Linked DNA regions of Homo sapiens: all the other regions are linked to region 2. Evidence: fine-mapped expression QTL. A gene starts in region 2. Each other region holds a variant in brackets. All regions are shown on one strand. Distances are from middle to middle.

Region 1 (8,110 bases), 370 kb before region 2:
TTCTTGTTGAAATCTTGCACCAGGAAAACCCATCAGACCAACTTGATTAAAAGAGGGTGCTATCAACACTCATGTTAATTATTTGGACTAGTGGTGCATCATTTTGCTTTCAAGCTTCTTAGAGATATTTGCTGTTCTGTTCATGACACAATGCTTGTAATCTGGCCAGCCAGCCAGAAAACACCATTTCAAAAATTTGTGACGTAAACTTGTGGTTTAGTCCGTTTGCACACTGCTGTAAGGACATAACCGAGCCTGAGTAATTTATAATGGAAAGAGGTTTAATTAACTTACCATTCTGCAAGGCTGCGGAGGCCTCAGGAAACACAATCAAGGTGGAAGGGGAAGCAAATATGTCCTTCATCACATCGTGGCAGGAGAGAGAAGAAAGTGCAAGAGGGGAAAAGCCCCATATAAAACCATCAGACCTTCTGAGAACTCACTCATCATCACAAGCACAGCATAAGGGTAAACGCCTGCTGATTAAATTACCCACCACTCGGTCCCTCCCATGACACATGGGGATTATGGGAACTACAATTCAAGATGAGATTTGGATGGGGACACAGCTAAACCATATCAACTTGTGTCAGCTTTTACAAATACTATGTGTAACTCAGTACTAGGTGGGAGAAAGGAAAAAACAAAAAGAAACATTCTGAAAGATGAGGCCATAAATTGTAAGACTTACACTCTTACCACTACTGCTTAGTATCATCCATGGACCAGCAGATCAGTTTCACCTGGGAGCTTAGCAATGCTAATTAGTGTCTGTCACCCCAGGCCTGCTGACTCAAACTAGGCATTTTAACAAGATATTCCAGGTGATTCCTGTGCAAGTCCATTTGAGGGGCACATGGAGGGCTTTTGGGGCAAAAACTCAAGTGGTCTTTTTCTTTTAGACTTTTTTTTAATCATATGTTTTTGGTTTTTGTCTCCTTCTAAACTCGAAGCTCTTAGTATCATCATCATCATTATTATATTTTACATATGATAAAGGCAACCAGTTATACTTAGATGCAGGTAACAAAATGGTAAGTAAGAAAAGGAAATGTGAGATATAGTTGTATATGTGCTTTTTTATTCAGGCATTGAATGACAATCTCTAGAAGCAAGGCTAATGCTCCTATAATTCTGAAGTAATGATAGGTGTCAACTATATTTGGAAATGCCTGCAACAACTATAATGTTATATAAAAATATCTATGACAAAGTCATATTCTGTCAATACTACTGTGCCTTGTTGCTGCATTCATAATTAAAAGGTGTACTAAGTATGAGTTTGAGATTAGTAAAAATTAGATGTCATTTTCTTTCCAACCAAGTTAAACACTGCTGAATTCAGTCCAAGGGCCCCAGGTTAAGAACGTTTGTTCTAAGAGGCTAATGTAGGAAATTATGGGATGTGTTTTAACTTGGTCTTGCTGGAAGGTGGGTGAGGGCTCCATGAGCTGGCTCCATACAATCCTTCCTCAAGTACATGATGAAGGAAGGTGCAAGGAGGCTGATGTTCTTCCACCCCAGTAGGCTATTAAGTGCCCAAGCCCCACTCCCAACCCCTTTGGGGGTTTCTTTGTTCTGAACCATTAAAAGGTTGGGCTGAGGCAGATGGATAATCTGTAAATCCTTCATTTTCTTCATCAGATCTGTTTTCCAAACATTGCCTGATGTTATAGGAATATTTACAGAAAGGGTGTGTTTGTAGTTATTTATGTTTCACATTTATTTACTTAGAATTTTTAAAATCTCATTTTCATTTTGATTTTGTATTCCAAACCAATTAATGGTCTTGGTTGAACAACAAAAACAGACTAAAATTAAAATTATCATAAACAAGCAGTACAATAACAGCCTCATGAAAAAGGTAAAGCAAGCTGATGGTGGGACAAACATTTCACCTTCTCAGTTGATTAATTTTAGATAAATAAGGCAAAATAAACAAACAAATATAGAGCTTGGCATGTGGTATGCATGCAATAAATATTTGATGAATGAATCAAGATATCAGAAAGAAAAATATTTGAAAGGTCTTTCTCTAACAGCCACTACTCATTTTAGCTACACATAATTGACTGGAAATATTCCCATTTTAGGAAGGAATTCTTTAGAGTAAGTGCGCTGAATTTAACATTTATTCATGTTTCTTTAAGTTGTAAGACTTGATAATTTTAGTATAAACGGGTGAACCCTGGGGTCAGGAATTATCTGATGTGATGTTCAGGAAGTAGCTTTGGCACTGTCAAGCAGAAGATAATTTAAAACCACCAAAGCATTCTCATTGTTAATATTTAAAGACTTCTGGGAAATGTGCTCATTTATTTCACAATTTAAAATAAACAAGTCTTAATAGCAACCTTTGAATATCTCTTAACAAAATTATCACCAAGCACCATTAGAAATAGCTTTTTATTGTTTGTGATCTATGAACTCACTCCATAATACTAATGCTTCAATCAGTTGTGACTGAGAGTTATATTCATGACAGATGCCAGAAATGGATCAAAAGCAGATAGAAGAAGCAAGCTGCTACCACCTTGTCCTCATAACATGTGTTCAAATAAAATTTTAAAAGTTCAAGGCTATATAACTTTTGTTTCATTGAAGATATTATAAAAGTAGACTGTTCTGAAGTAATTTTTACTTTTTTCTTCCCCGTTGATCTGAAGCATGCAACCAGGATTCATGGAGTTCTTTTCTGAAATTAATAAGGTTTTTGTTTACTAAGAAGCTTGAGTCTAAAAATCCTTTCTTAAATCCATTTTTGAAAACATCTAGTGTGACCCACTACACACAATTTCTAAGCCTACATCTTGGTAGTGGGCAGAGTAGATATACTCTTGCTCTAGTCCATGACATTATTTGTTATCTGTAAATTTTAGAAGAGATTCTGTATTCATATAGTATATATATATACACACACACACACATATAATAATGTATATTCAATATAGTATACACGCTATGTATTTGTACATATATATTTAAACTATGTAAGTAAACCATATGTAAATGATAAAAATGTTTAAATTATCAGAAAGAGGTATAAAATAAATGTCCAAAATGCAAAAAGAGATTAAAAGAAGGTATGTAAAAATAAAGAAATGATTGAACAATAAGAAAAATGAATAGGTTATTTGAAAAATAAAAGAATCCAATAGAGTTTTTAGAAGTAAATAAGGTCATTAAAATATTTAAGAAAATCCATGGACAAATTAAATAGGATATTAGATTATAAAAAGTATATTATAAAAACTTCGAAGTATATTATAAAAAGTATATTATATTATAAAAACTGAAGTATATTATGAAAACTTTAATGACAAGCAATAGTTTGGTCAAGACACTTGCAACATATAATACAATTTTGGTATCTGAAATATACAAAAAATCCCTATAAACCAGTAAGAGTCCAAGAAAAGCAGGCAGAGGACATAAATAAGCAATCTCAGAGTTATTTGCTAATAAACATAAGAAAAATGTTCAATTTTACTAGAAATTAGCACTATATAATTTTTAATAAATTGTAATACATTTAACTCTTATTATACTAGTAAAAATCAAAATAGCTGACAAATACCAAGTATTGGCAAGGATGTGGAGAAATGAGAACTTTCAAACAACTCTAGTAGAAGTGTAAACTATAACAACTACACTGGAAGATAAAGGGGATACTATCCAATAATTTTAAAGATACATCTAATTATTTACCAGAAATTTCTCTGCTCCAAAGAGTAGATTGTAAGGACTAGGAACATGAACTCAGGAGAAATGATGTCTTAGTTTGAGTCTTGAGTCTGTCACCTAATAGATCTGTGTTCCTAGGCAAATTAGCCTCTCTGAGACTCAGTCTCAGCCTCTTTTCTCTAGAATACTCTCTGTCATGAGTATTAAAAGAGTTCACAGAGGACTTAGTATAATGCTTGGAATAAAATAAGCTCAGTATAAATGTTAATCATAGCCAAACGCTGTTAATAATACCTAATAAAATTTAGCTATTAGCATGTGTACACATTTTAGAAATTCTGGCAGATGCACACAGGAGACAGGAAAGGATGGTCATTGCAGCATTGTTTCCGCTAATGTTAAGTTGGAACCAACTTAAATTTCTCCCACTGTGAGAACGAATAAATAAACTGTGCTATATTTATACAGTGGAATACTACACAGCAGTTAAGGGAATAACCTAGGTCAGGATTGTATGAAACATGGCCTGCTTTTGTTAATAAAACTTAATTGGAATATAGCTATGCCCATTCATTTTAACATGTTACCTATGGCTGCTTTTGCACTGCAGTGGTGGGGTTGAATAGTTGAAGTAGAGAGTATATAGCAGGAAAAGTTTAAAATACTTACAGTCTGGCCCTAAAATTTCCATTGAATTTTTATTTTAATATTATATTTTCATTTTCATTATAATCAAAAAAAATTTTATAAAATTATAATTTGAATATGACTGACCACCTTGAACTGAATATAGACACTTGATTTTAGTGCCCACATTTGATTTTATGCTTTTAATAGCATAGGAGCCAAAAGATATGACCTTAATATTCCTTAGCTGAGAACTAAAGAACAAAGGCAATGATGAGTTTGGGCCAAATAAAGGCCAAATAAAGACAAAAGAGCTTCATGGGGTTTAAGAACAAAGATGTCGTAGAATAGAATCTCTACCCTGATTACATATTAGAGTCACCAGGGAGCTTTTACAACATACCAGTGCCACACAGTCCCACCCATGGCCATCCCTGGAAGAAGGACCCAAGCAAGAATATATTTTAAAACTCCACAAATGACTCTAACGCGCAGTAAGGATTGAGAGCC[G/A]CTGTTTCCGAGCAGTTAACATAGACAACTAGATGGAAGAACTGGACTTTTCAAGATACAACGTGCATGCAACATAATGTGGGCATGCTCATATAAAAAACTCTGCACTTTATAAGATGGTATTCTGCCCATGTAGGAAGGGGAGCAATTTAGCTCAACAACACAGCAGCAACTATTACATGAACAATGCTAATGTAATACTAATTTATATTACTTACGTATTTGGTATTTTTCTTTAAAATTTTTTCTTTTTAATTTTTGTGAGTACATAGTACATAATTATGGGGTACATGAGATATTTTGGTACAGGCATGCAGTGAGTAATAACCACATATCACAGAAAATTAGGTAGTGATTTCCTTAAGCATTAATCCTTTGTGTTACAAACAATCCAATTATACCTTTTTAGTTATTTTAAAATATATAATTAAATCCTTTTTACTATAGTCCCGCTGTTGTGCTATCAAATAAGAGATTTTATTCATTCTTTCTAACTATTGTTTTGTACCCATTAACCATCCCCATCTCCACCCCTTCCCAGTCCCTGGTAACAATTCTTCTATGCTCTATGTCCATGAATTCAATTGTTTTAATTTTTAGATCCCACAAATAAGTGGGAACATGCAATGTCTGTCTTTCTCTGTCCGGTTGATTTCACTTAACCTAATGACCTCCATTTCCATCTGTGTCATTGCATATGACAGAATTTCATTCTTTTTATGGCTGAATAGTACTCCATTATGTGCATGTATCATATATTCTTTATCCATTCATCTGCTGATGAATACTTAGGTTGCTTCAAAATCTTGGCTATTGTGAACAGTGCTACAATAAACACGAGAGTGCTGATATCTCTTGGATATACTGATTTATTTTCTTTTGGGTATATACCTAGCAGTGGGATTACTAGATCATATGGTGACTGTACTCTTAGTTTTTTGAGAAACCTACAAACTCTTCTCCAAAGTGGTTGTACTAATTTACATTCCCACCAACAGTGGACAAGGTTCCCTTTTCTCTACATCCTCACTAGTATTTGTTATTGCCTGTCTTTTGAAAAAAAGCCATTTTTAACTGGGATGAGATGATATTTTATTGTAGTTTTCATCTGCATTTCTTTCATGGTCAGTGATGTTGAGCACCATTTCATATACCTGTTTGCCATTTGTACGCCTTCTTTTGAAAAATATTTACTCATATCTTTTGCCTAGTTCTTAATTGAATTATTAGATTTTTTTTCCTATAGTTTTTTTGAGCATCTTATGTATTCAGATTATTAATCTCTTGTCAGATGGGTAGTTTGAAAACATTTTCTCCCATTCTGTGGGTTATTTCTTCACTTTGTTGATTGTTTCCTTTGCTGTACAGAGGCTTTTAATTTGATGTGATCCTATTTGTCTATTTTTGCTCTGTTTGCCTGTGCTTGTGAGATATTACTCAAAAAATATTTGCCCATTCCAGTGTCCTGGGAAGATTCCCCAATGTTTTCTTTTAGTAGTTTCATAATTTGAGGACTTAAATTTAAATCCTTAATTCATTTTGATTGGATTTTTGTATACGGTGAGAGATAGGGGTCTAGTTTTATTCTTCTGAATATGAATATTCAGTTTTCCCAGCACCAATTGTTGAAGAAAATATCTTTTCCTCAGTGTATGTTCTTGTTGTCTTTGTTAAAAATGAGTTCACTGTAGGTGTGTGGATTTGCTTCTGGGTTCTCTATTTTGCTTCATTGGTCTATGGTTCTGTTTTTATGCAAGTATCATGCTGTTTGGCTTATTATAGCTCTGTAGTATAATTTGAACTCAGGTAATATAATTCCTCCAGTTGTTTTTCTCTTCTTTTCTTTCTTTTTTTTTTTTAACTTAAGAGAGCTTTGGCTATTCTGTGCTTTAGTGGTTCCCTATACATTGTAGGATTTTTTTTTCTATTTCCGTGAAGGATGTCATTGGTATTTTGATAGGGATTGCATTGAATTTGTAGATTACTGGGTAGTATGAACATTTTAACAATATTGATTCTTCCAATCCAGGAACATGGAATATCTTTTCATTTCTTGTGGCCTCTTCAGTTTATTTCATCAGTGTTTAATGCTTTTCATTGTAGAGGTCTTTTACTTCTTTCTCTTTTTCCTTTCCTTCTGCAATTTCTATTATGCATAAGCTGCTTTAATCGTGTCCCAGGGTCTCATAGGCTCTGTGAATTTTTTCTTATTATTTTTTTCTTCCTTTTTCCTAGACTGATTTTTTATTTCACCACTTCAAACTCTGCCAGTGAATCACTAATCTCATCTAGTGAGTTTTTTTATTTCAGTTGTTTTACTATTTAGCTTCAGAATTTTTATTTGGTTCTATTTTATGATTCTTAAATCTTTACGAATATTTTCCATTTGGTAAAATGTTTTTATACATCCTTTCAGTTCTTTAGACACTTTCTTTAGTTCTTTAAACATAATTTTTAGGTTTAAAAATGTCTGGGCTTTCTCGAGGATGGTTTCTATTAATTACTTCTTTTCCTGTGTATGGGCCATGGTTTCATGTTTCTTTGCATGTCTTGTGATTTTTTTGTTGTTGTTGAATAAGGGATATTTTAAGTAGTGTAATGTGGCAACTCTAAAAAGAAGATGTTCCCCTCCCCAGGGTTTGTTGTTTTTTATTGTTGTAGTTGTTGATATTTGTTTAATATTCTTTCTCTGGACTAATGCTGTGATGTCTGTATTTTTTGTAGTGTGTGGCCACTGAAGTAACTGCTCAGTTAGCTTTTTAGTTGGCTGATTAATAATTGGACCAACATTTAGTTAAATGCTTTGAACAAATGTCTCCTAACCTTTGTCAAGTGATTTGAGGATATGTATTGGGGAATGCTTCAATGCTCAGGAAGGCTGTTTACAACTTTACTTAGGCCTTTATTCTGTGCTTGTTCAGAGCCTCAAGTTCAGCCAAAGTGAGAGATTTGAATCTTCTCATGTCTTTCAATTATATGGCCCTGTTTATGGGCATGCCTTTTAGATTCCCAGAAATGTGTCACAGCTTTTCAAAGGTCATTATAGAGGGTTCATTTCTAATTTTTTCTTCTTTTCTTTTTTTTCTCATTCATTTGTTAGCTTTAATATATTCCCGAGACTATGCCTCCTCAGGCAGCTTTGATATTAAACAAATTGTCATTGATTATTTTTGAAAAATGCCTCATGGATAGCACTGTTGGCATAGAGCAAGTTCTGAGTCAGGTCAAATAAAGACAAACCCTGAGAACTGGGATTTTTCAATGAGCTGCTAGGCAGATGAAATAGTGA
Region 2 (8,103 bases):
TCCCTTTCAACAAGAATTTCAAAAGGAAGGGCATCATGACAATTTTTTTTTCTTTTTCTTTTATTTATTTTTTGTTTTTGAGACAGGGTCTCATTCTGTCTTCTAGGCTGAAGTGCAGTGGCACAATCATGGCTCACTGCAGCGTTCGTCTCCTGGGCTCAAGTGATTCTCCCACCTCAGCCTCCTGAGTAGTTGGCACTATAGATACATGCCAACATGCCTGGCTTTTTTTTTTTTTTTTTTTTTTTTAGTAAAGATGAAATCTCACTATGTTGCTTAGGCTGGTCTCGAACTCCTGGGCTCAAGTAATCCTCCCATCTAGACCTCCCAAAGTGCTGGGATTACAGGTGTGGACCACTGCACTCAGCCTGATGAATTTTTAAAATTATCAAATTGCAATATGCATGAGTTTACACATCTATTATTTTTATTATGATGATTTTCAAAAGGCTAGCTTGCACTTGGCAATGCTGAATTCTGATTCTTCTCAATTTCACAGGAGACTGGAGATTAAATCAGAAATGTTAAGGGCAAACAAAATTAAAATCAACATTAATGATGTATCATGGCAAAGACCACCAGTTAAACATTCCACCATAGATTTAAATATCTAGCCTCCAACAATGTAAAACATCTTTGTGATAATTAAGGAAAACAAAGCTTTTGGAATCTATTGGACATTTATTTGCCACATTGTGTTTTCAGGAGAAAGAAAGTACATGTTTGCTATCTGGAGGAACTTGGGCAAATGTAGGAAAAAAAAAAGAAGAAGAAAGAAACCCACATACTTCTCCATTCTTAAGAAAAGGAAGTAGTGGTGACATCATTCTCGGCTAAAATGTAGTCTGTTTATATCTCAAATATTCGGTAACAATGTTTTCTCCAGAGTTATGAAGCAACTAGAACAATCAAATACAATTTTCTTCTAAATCTTTATTGCCTGATTCATTCATTCATCCAACAAATATTTATTAAACATCGATTATGTGTTTGATGCTTAGGGACACAATAGTAAGTGGAGGGAAAGATACATAATACCTGCCCTCAAGAAATTTGGAGTTGAGTGGAGGATAGAAATATAAATTAAAGAATGACACAAATAATTATAAAGTTACAGCTGTTAAAAGAAAAGCATATGGTGCCAAGAGAACGTGTAATACAAGATCTACTCATGGAGGTGAGGGAAAGCTTGCCCATCAAAGAAGTTATGATTCAATCCACGAAGACCAGGAGTTGGCTGGGTGAAGAAAAAAAGGTCAGAGGAAGGAAGTCCACACTGGGGAAGGCTCTAAGCATAAAGGGTAGGAGGATTACAGAGGCATATTCACGAAATTTGGAGAAGGCTTTCAGTAAGCAAGGAGAAGCCAAATGAAAGTTTACGGGAGAGTTGGAGGCTTGAAGACACGTTCAAGGATCTGGTTTTTATCTTCTCTTTATCTCAAGAGCAGTGGGAAGCCATTAAATGATTTTAATCAGAGGGTTGGTATAACTAGTTTTGTATTTTGAAAAGCTGAATTCAGCTCTCGTTTGAGAAACTGAGTGAAAGAGCCCAGAACGGCCGTGGCTGAGGGTGACTCGTGGGAGACTCCTACACAAGCCATGGCAGTGGCATGGGCTGGTGGCAGAAGAGGGAATAGGGAGAAGATTTGGAACTCAATCTTCCTCCATTGACAAAGTCACTCCAGCTTTGGCAAGGCAATTAATTGGTGGGAAAGAAGATGCCTAGCCCTCCTGATTTCACTGCACTTTCTGCATCTTCAACATGAGTACTGGGAAGTGGCAAAACATCCAGAGGCAGCTTGGGTGCTAGGTGGAGCATGAGTTAAAATTCCAGGATGAAGCAAATGAACACTTAGAATGACAGGAAAGATTTGGGAGTTGGGTTTGGGGGAGGGCTATTTACCTTTATTCCCTGGAGACCCTGGCACAAACCCTTGCCTCTGCAATCTTCCTCTCAGGTAAAGGAATTCATTAAATGAATTGCTAGAAGATCTACTGACCAGAGGGCTGTACAGAATCATATCTTTGAGAGTGGGAAGTAGGTTGATCACATAGTTTATTATCCAATCAGGACATATCTGAAAGAGAAAGGGGGTTCTATTAATATTTAAACTACAAAACATGTACACCAGGAATGTCTTGGGCAAATCTGGTTGCCCTAGCAAGAAAGGAAATTTGAAAGTTTATACTGTTCTGCTCCCATGTTACCCCGTTTGCACATGAGAGGGTAAGTATTCTCTTTCTTCACCTGCATTAAGGGAATAAAAGCACAAGCATTCAGGTGACTCCCAACCCACTTTTAATTTTACAGTTTCTGCTATACTCTATACATTCTGAAAATTACATTTCCCACCACTATCACTTCGTGATAGGTGATCATTTACAATTACTCACTGACTCAGTCCCGGGAAGAGGCGGTGCAAAATGGGACGCTCTATCCAGGTGCTCATTAGAAATGCAGAATCTCTGCCTGCCTCCTAGACCTACTGAATTAGAATCTGCATTTTTAAATAAGATTTCCAGGTGATCAATATGTACATTAAAACTTGAGAAAAACCTCTAGACTTCGACCTAAAGAAAAACATTTTACAACTTGACAGTGTATGCACATACATACATGCATATAGACACAACTGAAGCACAAATTTAATGAAGTAGAATTTACCGTTACTATTTTATTTGGGAAAGAAATGTGCTCGCGACTCAATAGATTGGAGTATTCACTCCTGGATCTCAACTTGCAATTTGAAAACGCATCTCTAAAGCACCTAGGAGCAATCTGAAGAAAGCTGAGGGGAGGCGGCAGATGTTCTGATCTACTAGGGAAAACGTGGACGTTTTCTGTTGTTACTTTGTGAACTGTGTGCACTTAGTCATTCTTGAGTAAATACTTGGAGCGAGGAACTCCTGAGTGGTGTGGGAGGGCGGTGAGGGGCAGCTGAAAGTCGGCCAAAGCTCTCGGAGGGGCTGGTCTAGGAAACATGATTGGCAGCTACGAGAGAGCTAGGGGCTGGACGTCGAGGAGAGGGAGAAGGCTCTCGGGCGGAGAGAGGTCCTGCCCAGCTGTTGGCGAGGAGTTTCCTGTTTCCCCCGCAGCGCTGAGTTGAAGTTGAGTGAGTCACTCGCGCGCACGGAGCGACGACACCCCCGCGCGTGCACCCGCTCGGGACAGGAGCCGGACTCCTGTGCAGCTTCCCTCGGCCGCCGGGGGCCTCCCCGCGCCTCGCCGGCCTCCAGGCCCCCTCCTGGCTGGCGAGCGGGCGCCACATCTGGCCCGCACATCTGCGCTGCCGGCCCGGCGCGGGGTCCGGAGAGGGCGCGGCGCGGAGGCGCAGCCAGGGGTCCGGGAAGGCGCCGTCCGCTGCGCTGGGGGCTCGGTCTATGACGAGCAGCGGGGTCTGCCATGGGTCGGGGGCTGCTCAGGGGCCTGTGGCCGCTGCACATCGTCCTGTGGACGCGTATCGCCAGCACGATCCCACCGCACGTTCAGAAGTCGGGTGAGTGGTCCCCAGCCCGGGCTCGGCGGGGCGCCGGGGGTCTTCCTGGGGTCCCCGCCTCTCCGCTGCGCTTGACAGTCGGGCCCGGCAACCCGGCCCCCGGGCGGAAACGAGGAAAGTTTCCCCCGCGACACTCACGCAGCCCGACTCCCGTAGCTGCAGGGATTGTGAGTTTTTCTTGAAAAAGAGAAGGAAAGTTCAGTTGCAAGGGGCGCGGGGCACGTTTGGTCCCCTTTGTGCGAGCAGGAAAGGCGTTGTGTTGGCCGCGTTCGAGGCGAGCCCCCACCCCCGGAAAGGGAAGTTTGAGAAGTTGGTTATCTGAAGGCGGCCGGGGAGCAGCGGCCCGGAGCGGCAGCCTGAGCTGCCAAAGCAGCCAGCGCACCTGGGCCACTCCGCCCATGGCGATGCCGCGTGCCCACCCAGCTCTTTCTGAGCCACCCGTTCAAAAGGCCAGCTCCTCAGTCCTTAGCTCCTGGAGACGGCCACGCTTTCCCTCAGGCCGGCTTCTTGGCCCGGAGTTTTTGGAAACAAGTTTCAAGAAAATAATCGATTTCCAAAAGAAAGTTAGCTGGCTCCACTGACGCCTTGGCATGGATGGATAGGGAGTGGAGATGCTCAGGTGAAACCGAGAATCCCTCACTGAATGCCTACTGGGTGCTAGAGGCTGTAGATTTTGCCTGGAACAAGATAGTCCTGTCTTCAGGGAGTTGATGGTTCTATGCAATTATCGTTTGTTGGAAACCGAAGGGTTAAAATCCTAACTAGGCTACCCACCTGATCGCTGTCTCTGAAGGTTTTTAAGGAAAAAATAAAAATAAAAAAATATATATATATATTATATATATATAAATATATATATAATTATATATATAAATATATATAATATTAATATATATATGCATGCAGGAATGGGGGTTCTTAACTATTTGTTATGGAAAGTGTAAAACCTCTGAGACTTCAAAAGTTAGATTTTTTTTTTTTGGAGACGGAGTCTCGCTCTGTCACCAGGCTGGAGTGCAGTGGCGCAATCTCGGCTCACTGCAACTTTGCCTCTGGGTTCAAGCGATTCTCCTGCCTTAGCCTCCCGAGTAGCTGGGATTACAGGCGCGTGCCACCACGCCCAGCTAATTTTTGTATTTTTAGTAGAGACGGGGTTTCACCATATTGGCCAGGGTGGTCTCGATCTCTTGACCTCGTGATCCGCCCACCTTGGCCTCCCAAAGTGCTGGGATTACAGGCGTGAGCCACCGCGCCCGGCCAAAAGTTAGACTTTTTGCAGCTATGATCCAAATAACAGTATCTGCAGCTGTGGTCTGGGTAACCGAGTATTTGGGCAAGTCATAGAGCTTTTTCTGGGCCTTAGTTTCCTCATCTGTAAAATGGCCAGCTTGAATCTGGGTAATTTTACATCATCTTCATGTTTAACATCTTACGTATCGTGCCCCTCCCCTCCTTTCCCCTGGCTCTTCTGGTGACTTGGAGATGACCCATGTAGACTTTGGATGAAATGTAGAGGAGTTGACAGTCCACATCACCCGGAGGCACTCATTTTATTTATCCAGGGACATGGGCAGATTTACCTTTAGGTTTGTCTAGAAAAAATGCGCATCACGGTCAGTTGTAAATTTTAGAGTGTTTGAAGTGGATTGGGAACTTTTTAAAAATTATGGCATACATTGAAGGTGGCATGGAGATGGAAGCTTTTAATCAAATTAGGAAGAGGCACTATTGCAAGCAAAAAGTCTTGACACACATTTGAGTCCTATGGTTTTAATAAAATCTTAGTGTTTCGTTCTTGGCGTTTTTCCTGCATTGCAGTACCAGAATGTTCAATTGTCTCTCATTTTCCTCCAGACTTTTAAAACCTAAGTGACATTTTGCTAATAAATATTTAAAATGGCACCCTTAATTTTCTGTGGATGTTAAAAATCATTACAACTTTTGTTCCAGATTATAAAAGAAGGAAATTAGCAGGCCCTGATGTTGTTAGTTAGGTTCTGTTTACAAGGATAAGGTTTATGATTTGCAAATTCCAGACCCAATAGTTCACGAGTCACTTTCATTTCATCAATATACACACTTTTAAACAATTAGCTTAAAAACGTGGTGGCTTTTTATTTGGGTATTTAGACAGTTTTACAAGGCCCACAGATTTCATATTTTTATAGAACTGAAGTTTCAAAATGGTTGAATTAATGAATCATTTTGAATTTGTATTCATTTGATTCAAATTAAATTTTCAAAGTTGGCCAATGGTTGAAGACAGATATATTGAAGACGAGAAACCTAATTCTACTTACATTTTAATTTTTCATGTAAGTAAATAGTTTCAGAATTTCTCTAACGTAATTGGTAAACTGAAAACATTTTTTCAAAATATCTTAATGCAAGATAATATATCAGGTAATGAGATTGTTTAATAAACAACAAGCTCCTTTTACGTCACCTAAAAAGGCCCAAAAATCTGTCTTCTGTTTAGTAGCTTCTGTACTTCTGTTTAGTAGTATGCAAAGGATTTAAATAAAAGAACAAATTTCACTAAGAAATAGAAAGTTTTTTTTTCTTCGTTTTTGACTTAATAGATTCACTCTTCCTAAATGATCAAAATTAAGAAATGACTCTTTTGGGGAAAACTGTAAAGTGCACAATAACTCTTCAGGTCTGAAAAATATGACTTTTCAGGTTCCTGGAAGTAGATAGATTCTTATTGAGGACAAAGAATTTGTAAAAGTGTCATAGTGATCAGGTTCTTCACATCACTTTAATAACCTGCTTATTTTGTCAGGGTAAGAGACTAGACATCATTAGGCCCCAAATCTGATCTTCAGTCTACTCGTGCTTTTTTTCCGCCTCATAAAAACACATTTCCACCTTTAGGCCACTCAACATCTTATTTTTAATGAGTTATGATTTATACAAAATACTAATCACATTTTGAACTCATTGCCTTCTTTTCAATGTAGCATTCCCTAATGATGACTGTTGTCTATGTAGTCAACATAACTACTACATGTTTTCTACTCAGTTATGAACATGACTTTTTAATTTTTTCAGTAAGGTTAGTTTTTAACTCTGGATCAATAAGGCACCTCTGATATCATTGCAAAAACTGGGCATTTTTTCTTCTACCTTTTCAACCATATTTATTGAGTATCTCTTGCCAGGCAGGATGCTCAGACCTGGGATACCATCTCAGATGAATAAGACAGACCTGGTCTTTGCCATTGAATTTAACAGCTGGGAGCATGTTATAAGTAAAGAAAAGGATACGTGTTTTAACTGTTTATATTTGAAAGCATTATGGAATACTGGTGTTTTATTTTCTACACCTCATTTTCAAAAGCCTCATTTTTTTTTGTTGTTGTATGCACTAGGAGGATGTGCATGTTGAATGTTTCCTTCTAGGTCCCATTGAATGTATTTTTGAATCAATTTGTTGTCTCTTTCCTATCCCTGCCTTGTCACGGAGCCCCAGTTGGGCAGCCTTTAATTGCATTCTCCATTCCATAGCCAGCATGATGGACCCAATGCGTTCATTTAGTGCTCTCTTTGAGGATAGGCTGGTGGTAGAAGAGTGTAGGGTATAAACTTTGGAATCAGGCCGTCCTGGGTTCCAGACCCACTTGCCATGTACTGGCTGTGTAGCCTGTTGTAGTTGCTTTACCTACTAGTCATCCCTGGTCTCATTTGTAAAATGAGGATTATGGAGTTATGGTGAGGATTAAATAAAATATTGTTTTAAAGTATTTAACATGGTGCCTGCAACATAGTAAATGCTCAATAAATATCAGCTTCTGTTATTACTATTAACTCCTTAATTGGGCTTACCAGGGGCCTCTGACCTGGTTCCCATTTGACTCTGCTGCTTCACATCCCACCACAGCCCACATTTTCCCAGTCTATTTGTGTCACTACACATACACACAATGTGAGCAATTTAGGCAGCTGTTCCTTTGTTCAGGATGTCTGGAACTCCTGCTACCTGGCTAATTTTCACTCATCTTTTAAGACGTAGTTCAAGTGTCATCTTCTTGAGGAAACCTGCTTTGAATGTCCCAGTTTGAGGTAAATGTCTCCTATGAGATACAGACCTCTCACTTAGCTGGTAACAATACCAAGCCAAAGTCATATCTTTACGTAACTCTCTTGCCCATTATACCTTTAATCCTCTCAATCTTATTCAGTTTTCTATCTCTGGGATCTCTGGCAGTGCCTGACACATCATTTAGCACCCAGGAAGTGCTGAGCTGAGCCTCCACTTCATCCTACTGTATCTAATGCAACTGAGGTCGAGCATTTAACTAAGCAGTCACTGTTTGTTAGGTGTTTGGTCCAAATAGTAAAATCTTTACTTTCAGTTAGAATAGTTTTAGTTCTGATCACAATAAGTAATTTGACTGTTTTTGAAGTATGGAATTGGTTCTTGTATTCTCATGAAATATGGAAAAAGATGTTTCAACTTCTGACAAACATGATGGAAAGCTGCTAGAAGTTTTCATGCAATTCCTTTAGCCATAAATTTTGAATCAGTGTAGGGCCTTGAAAGCCACTGCAAAATTTTAAATAAAGTCACCAGAGGAATTATCCAGTAGATACTGATTCCTCT
Region 3 (8,110 bases), 43 kb after region 2:
CATATGTCAAATAGAATGCAGGAAAGATTGAGACACCAGACTAGATGGCCTCAAAGCTTCCTTCCGTGGTTTCTTAAATATCTACGGTGGTGTGAGCACTTGCTTTTGCAACCCAAAAAGGCTCTTTTAATTAAGATTTTTGTTTTCCTGACCAGTAATACAAGCCCAAATCATTAAATGTGAATCAAGTCTCTCTAGAATAGAGGCTTTGCTAGCCTCAAAAAAATGTGAGCATGTCGAAGAGAGGAGGCCTCCCTGTCTTTTCTGTGTCCCAGCTATAAAGGGTAAATACAATGAACATTATTTTGACCTGTGCTGGCCAAAGAAAATTCTCCCGTGAAGCCAGGGGTGTTGATAATGAGAAGGGGAAGTATAGGGTACGCTATAGTGCCCTCCTTGATCCTCCTTCATGACCAAGGCACTCATTCCCTGGGAGTGTTGGCTGTTGAAGGATCACTGCTGAGCCTTCCCTCCAGTGATGGGAGCTGCCTCATTCACGTTGGACACTTTTCATGGGTAGCCATCATCCCATGGCTAGTTGATGCAGAGAAACAAATTCCTGGTTATTTTGCCATAATGTGGTACATCTTTGAAGGACATCCCATTTTCAGAGTTTCCAAGGCATTCACTGAGGCCTTTGCTGCAACCTGCATTATAGTTTAGCTTTTTCCTTCTGTGCAATACTGTTGCCTTTAGTCGCTTACAGATGCATCTCCAAAAACCTCCTGCACAGAACTCTCACAGCCTCAAGGTCTGTTTCCAGGAAACCTAAACTAAGACAGGAGGCTATTGTAAAAATAGCCAGTGTGGAAACTGAAAGGCTCTACTATGATTGTAGATTTCAGTGTTGTTGTTTTTTTAATCAGTTTTAGTGTTTTTTCATTCATTCATTCATTCATTCATTCATTTAACTAATGTCAGTTGTGTGCCCATTCCATATAAAATGCTTAAGCTGCCTCCAAGGATAGAAATATTTTATAACCAAAATTATTATTATTATTATTTTTAAATTGAGAGGGAGTCTCCCACTGTTGCCCAGGCTGGAGTGCAATGGCGTGATCTGGGCTCACTGCAACCTCTGCCTCCCGGGTTCGTGCGATTCTCCTGCTTCAGCTTCCTGAGTAGCTGTGATTACAGGTGCACACCACCATCACGTGGCTAATTTTTTGTATTTTTAGTAGAGATGGGGTTTCACTGTGTTGGCCAGGCTGGTCTCGAACTCCTGACCTTGTGATCCGCCTGCCTCGGCCTCTGAAAGTGCTTAGATTACAGGCATGAGCCACCGTGCCCAGCCTCCAAAATTAATTTTATCATGTTGGTTCTTCTTTCAGTGGAAATTGACAACCTCTTCAGTGGCTCAGAGCAAATGTTGCAGGACAAAAAAAGAAGTCCGTATTTACTTCTTTGTATTTACCTTTCCTATGCTCAGCTATATCCAAAAAGAGTTTGAAAAGTTAGCTGTGCCTGGCTGTTACAGGAGTGAGTGGAGAAAGCAGTTAAGGGCTTTACCAGGTCTCAAGTATTACAGTTGTTTTCTCTCTGTGATGTTAGTTCTCTCAGTAGCTAAGAGGTAGAAAACCGGAGGCTCTGGAAGAGCTGCCCAATAATTATAGAGCAGCTTTCTTTCATGGCTCACAGTTCCTTCTTAGGCCTCTATAAGCGTCACAAGGAAAAGAGACCATGCCTTTCTGTGGGCACAGCATACCTTCGTTTTATTACCCAAACCAAAAACAACCTACACACACACACACACACACACACACACACACACACACACACAAAACTGTGGGGGCAGGGAGGAAGGTGTTCTTGTTCCATGACTACAGCTGATTTGAAGACTGCCAAGTAGCTTTGGGGTTAAAGATGGGTAGATTTCCAAATTATACATCATTTGTTGTATGATCATGCCAACTTTCATTTAGTTTCATTTGGTGTCCTGATAGCCACCCTCAACCAATTATTCTGCTTGTCACTCTTCCTGTCACAGCAGGGACCAACTTAGCAAAGCCTTGCTCCTCTTGTGTCTTTCGGAATTCTAGTTTAAGAACCCTTGAGCCCCTTCACAAGCAGACACATGTACCTCCACTGGAGTCAACTCTGGGCTGCATGGATGTTGACACTGGCACCATTCCTGCCTGGATTGTCCTAACCCATACCCTTGCCCTTATCCCTTTGTCAACATATTGTCCTTTAATGTCCTTGACTTAAGCACTAAAAAAGTGGTATTGGTCAAAGTTGCTCTTTCTCTCATGGGGATGGCCCCGCATCTTTTATAGGTGCAAGCTGTGTCTTAGCTGCTTCTTGCTTCTAGCCTGCCTTCCGTTTTCCTTGCTGTGAGCAGTGAGCCTTTGTGCATGGGGCAGGGAGGATTAGGGGAAAATTGGTGAGTGAGTACATGCATGCATTGGCTCATGTGTGCACTCAGAATCTTCATAGAAGATTACTCTAGCAAAACTGACTGGACCAGATTAGCCCTTCCTTCCGCTCCCTCTCTAGACAGAGAGAATGCGATTCAAGACAACAGGTATTTTGCATCTAAAAAGGACAGAGGTGAAAGGGTGGATGTCAGACTAGCCTTGTTGGACAGTCATCCAAGATAGTATGTTCATGAGGGAGCAGAGGGAGGTAGATAGAGAGGTGATACCCTTTTCCAAGAGAGCCAAAATGTTCTTTTGTTCAATTATAATAGTGGGCATTAATCATGTTGTTTAAAAATCTAATGTACACTGACGGCCAATTGAGCATTTCCTAGGGCCCAAGGAAAATGCTATGTGAGAAATTCTCTGAGCCCTGGGCTAAATTAGTCTTCAAATATGTGCTATGAAGTGATACTGTCAAAGTAGTTAGTTTATGACAGCATAAAATATTTCATTGAACTGTAAATGAAGAACACCCTGACATCCCTTTCCATTTCTTTTATTTATTTGTTTTTTTTGTTTGTTTGTTTTTTCTGAATTGCTCCTTTCTGTAATTTGGGAAAGACTGCAGTTCTTTATCTGCGATGTTTCTTCCCGTTTTTCTCAGCAGAACCAGCTGTTGACAAGGAGTATACCCTTTACACGCAATGCTCTGGGGCCCAGCAAACAAAAAAAAGAGGAACTGTGACTATTTCCCCAGGCATGCTCTTTGAAAACAGTATAGCTAGACAGGACAGATTTTGCCACTTAAACTAGGGGTGTGATGTGAGGTTTGCATTACATTCAGGATGGAAGATTTAAAATTATCCTGAGTACCTAGGAATGTTCTTTTTTTCCATGTCTTCCCCTTTAATGATTTAATTAAGACTTAAATATGTAAAGTTCTCCACCAGGACTGCCCCGTGGAACGCTGTCTGCTCCAGGTGATGTTTATAATCACAAATGGGTTCCAAGAATAAACAAAGGAAAAACAGAAAAGAGTAGAAAAGCATAGGAGACTATAGGACAGCCTGCGAATGCTGGAGAACAGGAACCAGCTGCCGTTGTTAGGAACAACTTCATGAAGGAAAAGTATTCCAGATTGCCTTTCTGTCTGGAGGCCATATTATTCATTTATTCTCTTTCTCTCTCTCCCTCTCCCCTCGCTTCCAATGAATCTCTTCACTCTAGGAGAAAGAATGACGAGAACATAACACTAGAGACAGTTTGCCATGACCCCAAGCTCCCCTACCATGACTTTATTCTGGAAGATGCTGCTTCTCCAAAGTGCATTATGAAGGAAAAAAAAAAGCCTGGTGAGACTTTCTTCATGTGTTCCTGTAGCTCTGATGAGTGCAATGACAACATCATCTTCTCAGAAGGTGAGTTTTCTTCTCTTAAGGGTGTGGGACCTGAGATCTGTGCCAATTTTTTGTATCCTTGGTCTGCAGTGTCATAGAGCACATTCCTCCTGTGGTGGATTGCATACAGTGGATTAGGAGCTCATTCAGCTGGTGGAAAGAGGGGCTTGGGGAGTAGCAGGGTTTGTTCTGGTTCTCATCAAATATGGTTGACTGGGGCAAACATTATTATTTGTCTTTGACAAATAGTTTCTTTCACCTAGAGCAGTGTTTCTCAAAGTGCGGCCTCTTGAGCAGCCAGCATCAGTATCACCTGGGAACCTGTTATAAATGCAGATTCTCAGGCCCCACTAAATGAGAAACATAGAGGGTGAACCCCAGCTATCTGTATTTTAACAAGCCCTCCCAGTAATTCTGTGCAGCTAAAATTTGGTAACTATTGTTCTAAAGATTTGGATGGGGTTGTTTAATCTTGGAGGAGGACTTTCTTTATAACTGATGTTGTTTCTTGTACATAGT[C/T]CCAGGATTTGTCTTTAGGGTACTTGTCATCGATCCCATTTGAGAGAAACATTGCAATACAGAGAGGAAATAATAAGCCAAAGTTTACCCCTAGAGCCAGGAGAAGAGTAGATTAGATACTAGCCTCCATCTTTGAAGTTCAGCGTTTACTCAGCTTGAAAGGAAGGCATACACTATTCCCTCAATTTTTAATAAGAAGAGAATTCAGTGGTTTTTAATTACAAAAGTAGTATATGCTCGTCATCAAAAATTTCAAACAATCCAACAGTGTGTGAAAATTAAAAATGAAAGTACATTTTCGTCCTCCCCTCACTCCCAATGCAACAGATCATCTGTATTGACAATGTATTAGATGCACACACGTCTCTATCATTCATTCATATTATCTCCCACTCCATCCTCTCTCCCAATCTCTCCCTGTCTTCCTTTCTCTTTCCCTCCTTTCATCCATCTGTCCATCCTTCCATCCACTCATCCATCTTTCAGTACAACTATCTGATCATACTATAAATATTATTTTGCAACACTTTTTTATACCCAACCACTTTTACAATTCCTTCTAAACAAGATAGAACACATAGATATACTGTACATCTTTTAATTTAGTCTCGAATTTCATATTATCTCCCACGATGGATCTTATCATGTCCCTGTTGATGGATTGTCTTCAGTTTTTCCACTTAATGCTACATTGAATATCTTTGTAAAAATATCTCATGCATTTGTGCTAATATTTCTGCAAGGCAGATTGCCAGAAGTGAAATTTCTAGATTAGAAATATGTGTATTTTAAATTTGAATAAGCACTACTAAACTATTCTCCTCCTGAAAAGGATGTAAGCATATGGATTTCCGTGTACCTTCTCCAACACTGGGAATGGATAAGTCTTTTAATTTTACCAGCGTGGTAGTGTAAATGTTAGTTTAGTCAACAATAGGTCTGATTTAATTAAAAAATCTTTTTGAAATACAAATGCTGGCTCTACACCCTATCTCTGCGGCCATGTGCATTCCACCTGCGAGAAGCTATGTGTCCTCGTGTTTCGTGTTTGGTGCTCAGTAGCACTGCAGATCCAGCTTGTTCTCTTCCTGTGTCCTTCACCTACTGCCATTCTCCCTATCTTCCTGTCCAACATCCCCCAGGCCAACTTCTCAGTGAACTGAAGGCAGGCATGCACATCTTGTCAGGGCAACGCTTTCCAGATTACTCTTCCTTCCTATGTTCTCATCCTCATCCTGTAAATGGTCCATTTCTCTCGTTTTCTTTTCTGGTTGTTTTTTTTTTTTTTTTTTTTTTGACGGAGTCTCACTCTGTCGCCCAGGCTGGAGTGCAATGGCACGATCTTGGCTCACTGCAACCTCTGCCTCCCAGGTTCAAGTGATCCTCCTGCCTCAGCCTCCTGAGTAGGTGGGACTGCAGGAGTGTGCCACCATACCCAGCTAATCTTTGTATTTTTAGTAGAGACGAGTTTCACCATGTTCGTCAGTCTGGTCTCGAACTCCTGACCTCAGGTGAATAACCTGCCTTGGCCTCCCAAAGTGCTAGAATTACAGGCATGAACCACTGTGCTTGGCCTCATGTTCTTTATGTGATTTGAGTTAGGAGGGAAATCTAAATAGTTTAATCACATGAAACATGGTAACACCTGATATTCTGACTTACCAGGTCAGCTTTCTTCAAGTAGATCACCTTTTAAAAGAAGGCCTAGGCTAAGCCAAAGGAATTAATCTCTGACAGTAGAATACCCAGGCATGTTTACTAGCATTGAAGAAACTTTTCTCTCCTTCTGTATACCAGCTTGTCTACAGTAGACAAGTTTATTTCCTCCAAAAGGACAAAAGTTGATAAATGGCCTGCAAGTTGGATCTATATTTTATCATTGAATATCTTTGTCAAAATATATCATGCATTTTATATTTTACTATGAGCCTTTCAGATACTAATGACTTCCATTTTCAGAGTCTTTCAACTCAAGTGATCATCATGGGCATCCCTCATATTTTTCCTCTTATTTATTCTCAGACTTTCTTATGAAGTGAGATAATAAGCATAAAGACAATTTCTCACTGTACAGTACAGGAAGCCTTTCACAGCTGACGACTCAAATGTCTGGGTGATTTCAGAGTCTTCTAAAATGCTCCAGAAGGTAGGGGGTGTTTGCTTTTTAAGCATCTCTTTTCTGTGTGGTGGGATATTTCTTCCACCTAAAACAGCAGACATTAGGAGCAACATTTTATATTCCATTTCTCCCCTTATTGCCACCATCTCTTCTTTATCTTGAGGAATGAAAACTTTTTTTTTTTTTTTTTTTGAGACAGAGTCTCACTCTGTCACCCGGGCTGGAGTGCAATGGTGCAGTCTCGGCTCACTGCAACCTCTGCCTCCTGGATTCAAGCAATTCTCCTGCCTCAGCCTCTCAAGTAGCTGGGATTACAGGCATCTGCCACCATGCCCGGCTAATTTTTATGTTTTTAGTAGAGACGGGGTTTCACCATGTTGATCAGGCTGGTCTCAAACTCTTGACCTCAGATGATCCACCTGCCTCAGCCTCCCAAAGTGCTAGGATTACAGGCATGAGCCACCACACCCGGCCAGAATGAAAACTCTTAATGTTGATTTGTCTACTCCAAGTCCAACAAGGTGGTGAACACAAAAGCTATGAAGTGCATTGTGGCTGTATTATTAGTAGTACAGTACTCTTGTTGGCAAGTTCCTGATCTGCAGCTACACAATGGATGATAATTATGTACATCTACCTTTTTTAATATGTAAGAAAAAAAAGTTGAGCCACAAGATTTTAAGTATGGATCTTTATTTCTAGTGCTACTATTAATGATAGTTAATATTCAGAGAAAACATACTGTCGCTGTGCAGGGAGCTCAGCCCTTTCCAAGCATGACCTCATTTAATCTTATAGCCACCCCATGCGAGTAGGCACTGTTAGGATCCCTGTTTATGCATGAGAAAACCAGGCTTAGAGAAATTTAACACTTTGTCTACAATCAAACAACTAGTGGGTATCAAAGCTAGGATTTATAATGGGATATGTAAGGCACTAAAACCTGTGAAGGTTTTCCTTTTTTCCTTTTTTAATTCTTTCCTTTTTTCCTCTTTTTATTTCCTTCTTTCTCTTTATATCTCTGTATGTTTCCAAAGAGATAATATATGCATATGATAAAAAATTCAAATGCTAGACAAATTCAAACATCTAGACAAAATGGTGCAGAGATTTAACATTTGTTCCTTTTGTTGTTGTTGTAAATGAGGCTTGGTTGTCTGTAGAGGCAGAGGAACACGGTAACATCTTGACATCAGACACTGGTGTCATAGATGCCCTTTCCTCAGAGGACTGAGATCATGGTTTTTAGAATGAAAGAGTTAAAGAAACCTTGCTGTTTTTTTCTTTGAACCGGGTACCTACCCTTAACCCTGGAATCCCTCAGTGGGGCCTAGTGCCAGTTCCCCTGCCTCCCTACAGTGACCAAGGGCAGGCAGGGGTCAAGAAACAACTAGAATGGGGCTGGGGTCTGCACTGCACAACTGTTCTCTCACATTCATGCTTCCCTCCCAGTCTCTGAAGATTCCCTCCTGCCAGAACATTTTGTGTAGAATTCTAAGGAAATCAGAGTCTATCCCTGTACTAACCAACATATAAAATTCCAATTAGAAGAGAAGTTGTTTGGATTGGTCATGATGGATGGCCTGGTGACAGCTGTCAGTCAGACGAGACCTGATGGGCACCAGGACTGAAGGCAGCAGCACAGGAGGTAGGAGAGGAAGGAATCCTGAGCAAATAGCCATGCTGTTTACTTGCCAATGACATCCCCACTTTGC
Region 4 (8,110 bases), 350 kb before region 2:
CGCAGGAGTATCCGATCCTGTGGGAGTACTAGGCCCACATCTGTCCAATGTGGGAATCCTCTATAGGCAATCTTTGCACTGGAGCTTCCCATTGGGTTGGCTGGGACTTTCTCAGAGCTTTGCTGCAGTATGGGGCCTTTCCTAGCGAAAACTCTGTGTTCTTCCCCCTCCCTTTCACAGGTCTCAGACCTATGGACTGAAGGTGCTCTCTGCCTAATTCTGCTTCTTTCCCCCTTTGGATTTCATGGCATTTCTCCTAATTCTGACTATTTCTCCTAATTCTCCTATTTCTAACTCCATCTTGGTGCCTGCTTCCCAAAAAGCTCAACTAATACAAGGAAGATCTAAGAATCTAGAACTGGAGAGAAAGGACTAGGCTGGAGATCCTGGTTTGATATTTTCAGCCCTTAGGAGGGGGTTGTAGTCATGACCAAGAATGATATCTATAGATTATGTGTGAGGTCCTTCTTCCACATAGCACCTATTGCACATTTAAGTTAAAGGTCTAGGACTACCCAACTTCACACTATGTACAGATAGATCTAGCTAGTCTCACTTCATCCTTCTTATTGTTACTTTTAGTCCTTGAGTAAAAGGCTTCCTTCAAACTCTGTAAACAAATAGACACCATTAGAGTTTGGGTCAATAATTTTATGCCCAATATAAGAAAAAAATACACAGCTACCCCTTAGAGAATGGTATCTAATTAAGGCTGTTTCTTAGTTGTTGATGAAGCATATTACCCATCTGTGGGTGATGTGGAGAAAATGTGACAATTGGGGAATTGGCCTTGCCACCAGCTAATTGTAGGGCCAAGAACAATCGTTCATCCCATAGCATTGATGGGGTAGATCCTTCCCCCAGTTGGAGGGCTCAGCCTCTCTCATCTGAACTTTCCACTGAATGAACTATACACAGAAGAGCCAGTTTCATTACAACTCTTAGTGCTCTGTTTCTCCATTTGTCCCTCTTGTCTCTATCCAGCCTCCCTTGATGGGTCCCACATCTTTCATATTGATTCCATTTTCAGAATTTCAGTTAGAAAAGTTCTTTTCCCATTTTAGCTCAAGAGTTCATAATAGGACTTGATTGTGTCATCTTATTTCTGTAATTTTATTAGGTTCAGAACAACTTTTGGGGGCATTTTGTCACATCTTTTACATGTACTCCCCGTTCAAGCCTTAATGTTGAAGTAAAGTGCTCTAAAGAAGACAGTGTCCTGCAGCAGATTAGAATAATTTAAACTCTAAAGCAGAGTTTGGCAAACTTCTTTTCCAAAGAGCAAGATAGTAAATATTTTACACTTTGTGGATCCTGTGGTTTCTGTTACAACTACCAGCTCTACCATTAAAGAGCAAAAGCAGTCATAGAGAAGGCACAATTGAACTTTATTTTTAAAAACATGTGGTAGACAAGATTTCGCCCATGGACTGTAGTTTGCCAACCTCTGGCCTAAAGCACAACCCAATACTTTTTAAATCCTTTAAAACAGAAAGCAAAAACATTTACAACATTTACATTGTAAATATATATGTGAAAAGTTATGTAATAAGCAATGAATTTTCTAGCAACAATTTTTTGGTCGTCTCAAATTTCTATTTATCTGACTATAAATTTATGCGTCATATTTTTATACTTTTACTTTTAATGAATTAAAATTGTCATTGTTGAGTGCAGGCTGCTATAAAATAAAACTTAGAATGCTTGAATTTCATGAAGCAATCCATTAGTTCTTGTCATTATGACCTCGTAAAAGTAGAAAATATTTTGAAAGCTGAATCAGTTTCCAGTTTATATTCATATGTACTTGTTTGCATTTTACAATTTTTTTTCCATCTTTTTTTATTAGTTTGAAAGCAAGGCCTATTTAAATTCTGGAGCTTTTCTCGGAAATTTCACAGTCCTCATTCCATGATGAAGGTGGTGACTAGTTGCCAGGGAGATGATTACCAAAGCTTCATTGAGGTTTGTGATTTCTGGCGGGAAATGAGCAGCAAGAACAAGTAAATTTTTTACGGCATTTTTAAATTTCAAAGCTAACCTTTAAATTGACCCTGTCATATTATCACCGGGACTATGTAGTTTTAATTACTTCTACTGGTTATAAGTTGTTGGATATTAATACTGAAGCTGAGCTGTCTGGAACACAAAATTAGATATACCCGTAGGCCATATCCTGTATTCAAACCTGTGTTCTCTCTCTGGGGAGAAAGAACTAGAAGAATGGCTTCTCAAGGTTTCTGAATGTTGTTAGGTTTCTTTGTAAATGAGAGATAGAAAATATAAATTTATGAGTTTTTGCCTCCTGACACATTTGCATTGGCAATTTTTAGGGTAGACTAGTGGGAAGAAAGTTGGATTGGTAATTGAAATTAGACTCAAGTTCTGATTGTGTTACATATCTCATTAGACTAAAGTTGTCAGATTTAGCAAATAAAAATATGGGATGCACAATTATATTTTTATTTCAGATAAACAATGAATACTGTTTTAGTATATGTATGTCCCATGCAATATTATACTAGAAATTATTCATTGTTTAACTAAAATTAAATTTTAACTGAGCATTCTGTATTTTATGTGGCAGCCTTTCCTTAGAGAAATCACATACATAATCTTTCTGAGCTTCCCAGTATTTTCACATTAGATTAGTTTTAATCTAAATACTTTTAGCTTTAATAGGATTTTCAAGGTTAGGAAAGGCTAACTGCTATAACAAGTGATCCTCAATTCTTAGTGACTTAATACAACTTGAGGTGTTTTTCTTGCTCACATCTCAGCCAATGGGGTTCAGTGAGCTGTCTTCCACATGGCAGCTTAAGGACACAGGCTCCTTTGTACAGCTTCATCATGTTTAAAATATGGTCTCAATAAAATTAAATGGTAAAATACACCCCTCCCATTGGTGAAAACCTGTCATGGTTACTACCTAGACTTAAGGTGCTGGTGAATGTTAAATTAACCATAGTCCTACAAAGAAGAAATGGCTTTTGTGCATCTCTAGCCAATTTTCACCACATGTGTTACTTTTGCTCATCTACTCACATTCATATGTCTGGCACTACTTTAGGCACTGGAGATAAAGTAGTGAACAAACTGGATAACTTTCTTTGGAAAGTTTTGTTCTAGTTGGAAGAGATAGGAAAAAACAAACAAAAAATAACTATATATCAGGTACTATGAAGAACAATACAGCAGTATACAGGGAAAGAGAGCTAATGGGAAGTGTATTAGACAGAGTTGTTGGGATCTTTGTGACAAGCTAATATCTGAGCAAAAGGAAATGGGCATGTCTGTAGAAAGAGCTTTCCATGCAGAAGAGGCAGCAAGTACAAGCCCTAGGGCAAGAATGCACTTGGTGTGCAGAACATTTAGAAGGCTGAGGTGGCCAGAGCACAGTGAGCAAGGCTGGGAGTGGTAGGAGAGTAGGTCAGAGACAGGCCATTGTAAGGATTGTGGGTTTTACTCTGAGATTTGAAGCCATTGAAGTGTTTTGAGCAGAACAGTGATATAAGAACAAGAAATCTTAAAAGTCAGTCATTTAAAACTTGTATTACTTTGTTGAGTATATACTGCAGAGTTTATGTTAAACTATCTAGGGCAAGGCTGTAGCAAAAGATCAGTCATGACGCTGTTATAATATTCCAGGTGACAGGTGATGCACCTGAATAGACATAGTGAAGTTGGTAGGAAGTGGATGCATTTTGAATACATTTCAGAGATAGAGAAGAGATTTGCTTAAGGTGTCATGTAACACAAAATGAAGAGGCAAAGCTTATACTGAAGTTGCAGGCATGATCCACTGGAAGAATAGACTGACATTTACTAACATAAGTCTATGGGAGGAACTAGTATAGGGGTATTAGAGATCAGGCGGGTTCAATTTTGATAAAGTTAAATTTAATGTGCCTTCAATAAGTTAAAATAGCCATTGAATGAGTTAGATTAGTTATCCAAGTGGAGAATTATATCCAGGATTCATTAGAGAGATTGAGGCTACAGGTGCAATAGAGTCATCATGGTACCAATGGCATTCAAGCCTTGAGATTGGAGATGATCACCAATGATTGTGGACAGAAAAATGAAGAGGTCCAAGGACAGAGCCTTGGAACACCCCAACATTAAGCTGTCAAAGAGAAGAAAAAAAAATCAGCCAAAAAAATATTGAGAATGTGTAGCCAAAGAGCAAAAAACTATTAGGAATATGTACGCAGAGAGGTAATTCAAGGAAAGATTCAATTAAAAAGCCAATGGAATCAAAACTTCAAATGCAACTGCTTGGTTAAATTATTTAATTCAAATTAAATAATTTTATTTAATCCAAATTAAAGTATTAGATTAAGCAAATTGAACATCTTTGGGGACATTTAAAGATGGAGAGATGGAGATGAAAGCTTAAGTAAAGTTAGGCCAACTTCCAGCCACTTGAACTAACTGAAGTTGGTTCAATATAGAATGGGAGGAAAGTAGAGGCACAGGTACAGATGATTCTGAACAGTTTCGCAGTAAAATAGAGCAGATAATTTATTACTTCTTTAAAGTAAATCTAAATTAGTCCCCAGTTTGCTTTCACTAATCCCATAATCATTTACTGCATGTCAGTTACATAAAAGGCATGACACCAGGTGC[G/A]ATAGATACAAAGATAACTATGACATGCTGCAAGCTTGCTGCACTCATGATTAGGGAGAAAGAGGTGCAAACAAGAGATTACAGGTCAGTGTGGAATGTGTTAATGAAGGTCCAATTAGAGTGCTATGGTAGTGTGCTGAAAAATGGCAGTGACTCAGCCTTGGCTGGTCAGGGAACAATTGTTTAAAAGATACCTTTAAAAGATAATTGGGCTTCAGCAGATGGTTAAAGACCTAAGGATGTTCCTAGTGAGAGATATGGCATATGCAAAGTCTGGAGAGCATCCATCTCTAATTCTGTTGGATTTATAAATCTTTCCCCACATTCTATTGAAGTCGAGCTCCAGATACATTCTTCAGTGTTTGGAAGTCCTCCTCATCTTCCCACATGACTCCTCTAGTCCCTACACTTATATGCAACCCACAACATGCTTCGTTATTGCCATTCAAAGTATGGTCCTCATAACAGCAGCATCACATGTGAACATTTTAGAAATACAAATCCTTGGCTCCCATCCCACACCTACCGAATCAGAGTCTCTGGCGGTGGTACCTAGGAACCTATATTTTAACAAATCCTTCAGGTAGTTCTGATGCAGCTAAAGTTTCAGAAGCAACTTGTCCAGGTGCCTACAGATTTCTTCTTTTTTAAAAATTTTGCCCTTCTTAGCATTCAGAGGAAATGCTCATAATTAGGGTTACATGTTCACTAATTTAGTCTTTCCCTATCTACTGATAAAAAGTTATTTTGTTCTGAGTTCCAACATGCCATTAGCAGACGCTTCCATGAAAATAATCAAGTAAGTAACCACAAATTCCTAAAGTGTTGTTCTTTAGGGAGTACTTGCATTTTAGCCAAATTTTGAAAGGACATTTCTGCTGAAGAAAGCTGAAGTGAGAGATATTTGCCTGTGTATATATCTAGAAAAAACTTTTTTAAAATTTTGTTTTTTATTTTAGATTCATGAGGTAACATGCAGGTTTGCTATGTTGCATAATGCTGAGGTTTGGCTTCTAATGATACCATTGCCCAAGTAGCAAACATACTATCCGATAGGTAGTTTTTCAATCTTAACCTCCTTCCCTGCTTTTGCAGTCCCCAGTCTCTATTGTTCCCGTCTTTGTGTCCATGTGTTCTCAATGTTTGGCTCCCACTTATAATTAAGAACATACAGTTTTTAATTTTCTGTTTCTGTGTTAATTGACTGAGGATAATGGCCTCCACCTGCATCCATATTGCTGCAAAGGACATGATCATGATTTTGTTCTTTTTTACGGCTGCATAGTATTCCATGGTGTATATGTACCACATTTTCTTTATCATATCTACTATTGGTGAGTACCTGAGTTGGTACCATGTCTTTGCTATTGTGGATAGTGCTGTGATGAACATATGAGTGAAAATGTCTTGTTGGTAGAGTAACCCCATTACTGGGTATATACCCAGATGAATATAAATCATTCTACCATAAGGACACATGCATATGAATATTCACTGCAGCACCATACACAATAGCAAAGATGTGAAATCAACATAAACACCCATCAATGACAGATTGGATAAAGAAAACTTGATACACATACATCATGGAATATTATGCATCCATAAAATGAATGAGATCCTGTCTTTTGTGGGAACAGGGATGGAGCTGGATGCTATTATCCTTAGAAAACTAATGCAGGAGCAGAAAACCAAATACTGCAGGTCCTCACTTACAAGTGGGAACTAAATGATAAGGAACTTATAAACACGAAGAAGGAAACTGAACACTGGGGTCTACTTGAGGGGGAGGGCTGAAGAATGGAGAGGAGTAGAAAAGATAACTGCTGGTTACTGGGCTTAATACTTGGATGATGAAATAATACGTACAACAAACCCCCACGACACGTATTTACCTGTGTAACAAACTTTCACATGTACTCCCAACCCTAAAATAAAAGTTAAAAAAAATTTATTTTCATTTGGGTATATACCCAGTAATGAGATTGCTGGGTCAAATGGTAATTCTATTTTTAGTTCTTTGGGAAATTTCCAAATTGCTTTCCACAGGGGCTGAATTAATTTGCATTCCCATCAACAGTGTATAAGTGTTTCCTTTTCTCTGCAACTTTACCATCATCTGCTATTTTTTGACTTTTTAATAATAGCTATTCTGACTGGTGTGAGATGATATCTCACTGTGGTTTTGATTTGCATCTCTCTGATGATTGGTGATTTTGAGCATTTTTTTTTCATATGTTTGTTGGGCTCTGGTATGTCTTGGAAAGATACTTTATAATAAGACTCAGGCACACCAAAATTTAGCACCTCACATCATTGATCATTGAATAAAACCTTGAGACAACCATCAGCATTTCATTAATGAACGTTTATTAAGCACTTTATTTAATGAACCTCCTAGGCTGCAGGAAAGAACAGCACAATTACTTTTATAAGTTATAAAAAATTCTTGGATCCTCCTACCATCTTTTCTAAGGCCTACTCATTCTATTTTCCTTTGAAATAATCTAGGTTTAAAATAAGTCTTCTTATTTCTTACTATTCTGAAAAATGTCAATTCAAAGCTGAGCAAGATGGACTTTCCACTTTTCAAACAGATTAGTATCCCTGAGTCATTTTTAGAAGCTCTGTAAGGAGGATCAAGTGTGCACACTTAGAAAATGCCCTCAATCAAAGTGAGGATCATACACAGTAGGGCTCACCATGAGTGTCCCTGGAATGTGAACTATTTTCACAAGACTGTCTCTTCCTACTGCTATCTTTCTCTTTACGTGCTATCCTCACCACCCCCAGAAGATTCCATGTATCTCACAGGAATCCAGAAGCCTTATGTTTCACTGCAAATGACTCTCTGGAAAGTAACTAGAAATAATAATAGCTACAGCTATTACATTTACTATATTCCAACAGCTAAGTGATTTAGAAATGTTATCTCATTTGATCTTTGCAATGGTCCATGAGGTAATTTTTATTAGACTTATCTTAAAGAGGCTGAGAGAAGTTGAAAGAAACTTGCTTACTCAGATAGCAAACTCAGGTCTACTGAACTCAAAAGCCACGATATTTTTTTATTTCACAAATGCTCAGTCTGTAACATGCCATTTTGCTGCTTTTTCCAGGGATATTTGTGTTTAGCATAATCTGTGATAACAGAATGGGTTTGTACTTCCTTGAAGGAACTTGGACACTGATGAACAGGTAGAGATGACCTTATTTGGCTGGCCATGGAAGCCTGAAATCATGCTATGGGTATTTGTTTTGATACATGAAAATAAGACTTATGGATAAATGATGATGACAGAGATGTCTTCCCTGTCAGAGTGAAAGCTTTCTGTAGATCTTTCTCCATACAAGTCAAAGCATGTCCTTAAAACAATTAGGAACCTCTGTTTTGGATAGAAGGAATTATTTTCACAAATCGAGTGTTGTAACCTCCCTAAATTCTATCATTTTCTGGAAGGAATATGAACACCAGAAAGTT

The links. PIP is the estimated chance that this variant, and not a neighbour inherited with it, causes the effect.
Region 1: its variant is the best candidate, but not a certain one, in a credible set for the expression of TGFBR2 in lung (TOPMed, PIP 0.52).
Region 3: its variant is the best candidate, but not a certain one, in a credible set for the expression of TGFBR2 in whole blood (TOPMed, PIP 0.67).
Region 4: its variant is the best candidate, but not a certain one, in a credible set for the expression of TGFBR2 in fibroblasts (GTEx, PIP 0.52).

The regions. Positions count from the first base shown.
Region 1 is chr3:30,232,146-30,240,255 of GRCh38, forward strand. No RefSeq gene overlaps it. Among named protein-coding and RNA genes, the nearest start is that of LINC01985, 280 kb to the right of the region's middle. The variant G/A (reference allele first, on the strand shown) is at 4,822.
Region 2 is chr3:30,603,481-30,611,583 of GRCh38, forward strand. It overlaps TGFBR2 (transforming growth factor beta receptor 2), which reads left to right and starts at 3,121. Exons shown (of 7, transcript NM_003242.6): 1 at 3,121-3,497. The coding sequence starts at 3,404. LOC105377015 (translation initiation factor IF-2-like) reads right to left here and starts at 3,444. Exons shown (of 2, transcript XM_047449400.1): 1 at 2,666-3,444; 2 at 919-2,078. The coding sequence starts at 3,444. The coding sequence ends at 3,004. RefSeq lists a silencer at 3,195-3,294.
Region 3 is chr3:30,646,683-30,654,792 of GRCh38, forward strand. It overlaps TGFBR2 (transforming growth factor beta receptor 2), which reads left to right. Exons shown (of 7, transcript NM_003242.6): 3 at 3,588-3,778. Among named protein-coding and RNA genes, the nearest start is that of TGFBR2, 44 kb to the left of the region's middle. The variant C/T (reference allele first, on the strand shown) is at 4,277.
Region 4 is chr3:30,249,310-30,257,419 of GRCh38, forward strand. No RefSeq gene overlaps it. Among named protein-coding and RNA genes, the nearest start is that of LINC01985, 270 kb to the right of the region's middle. The variant G/A (reference allele first, on the strand shown) is at 4,630.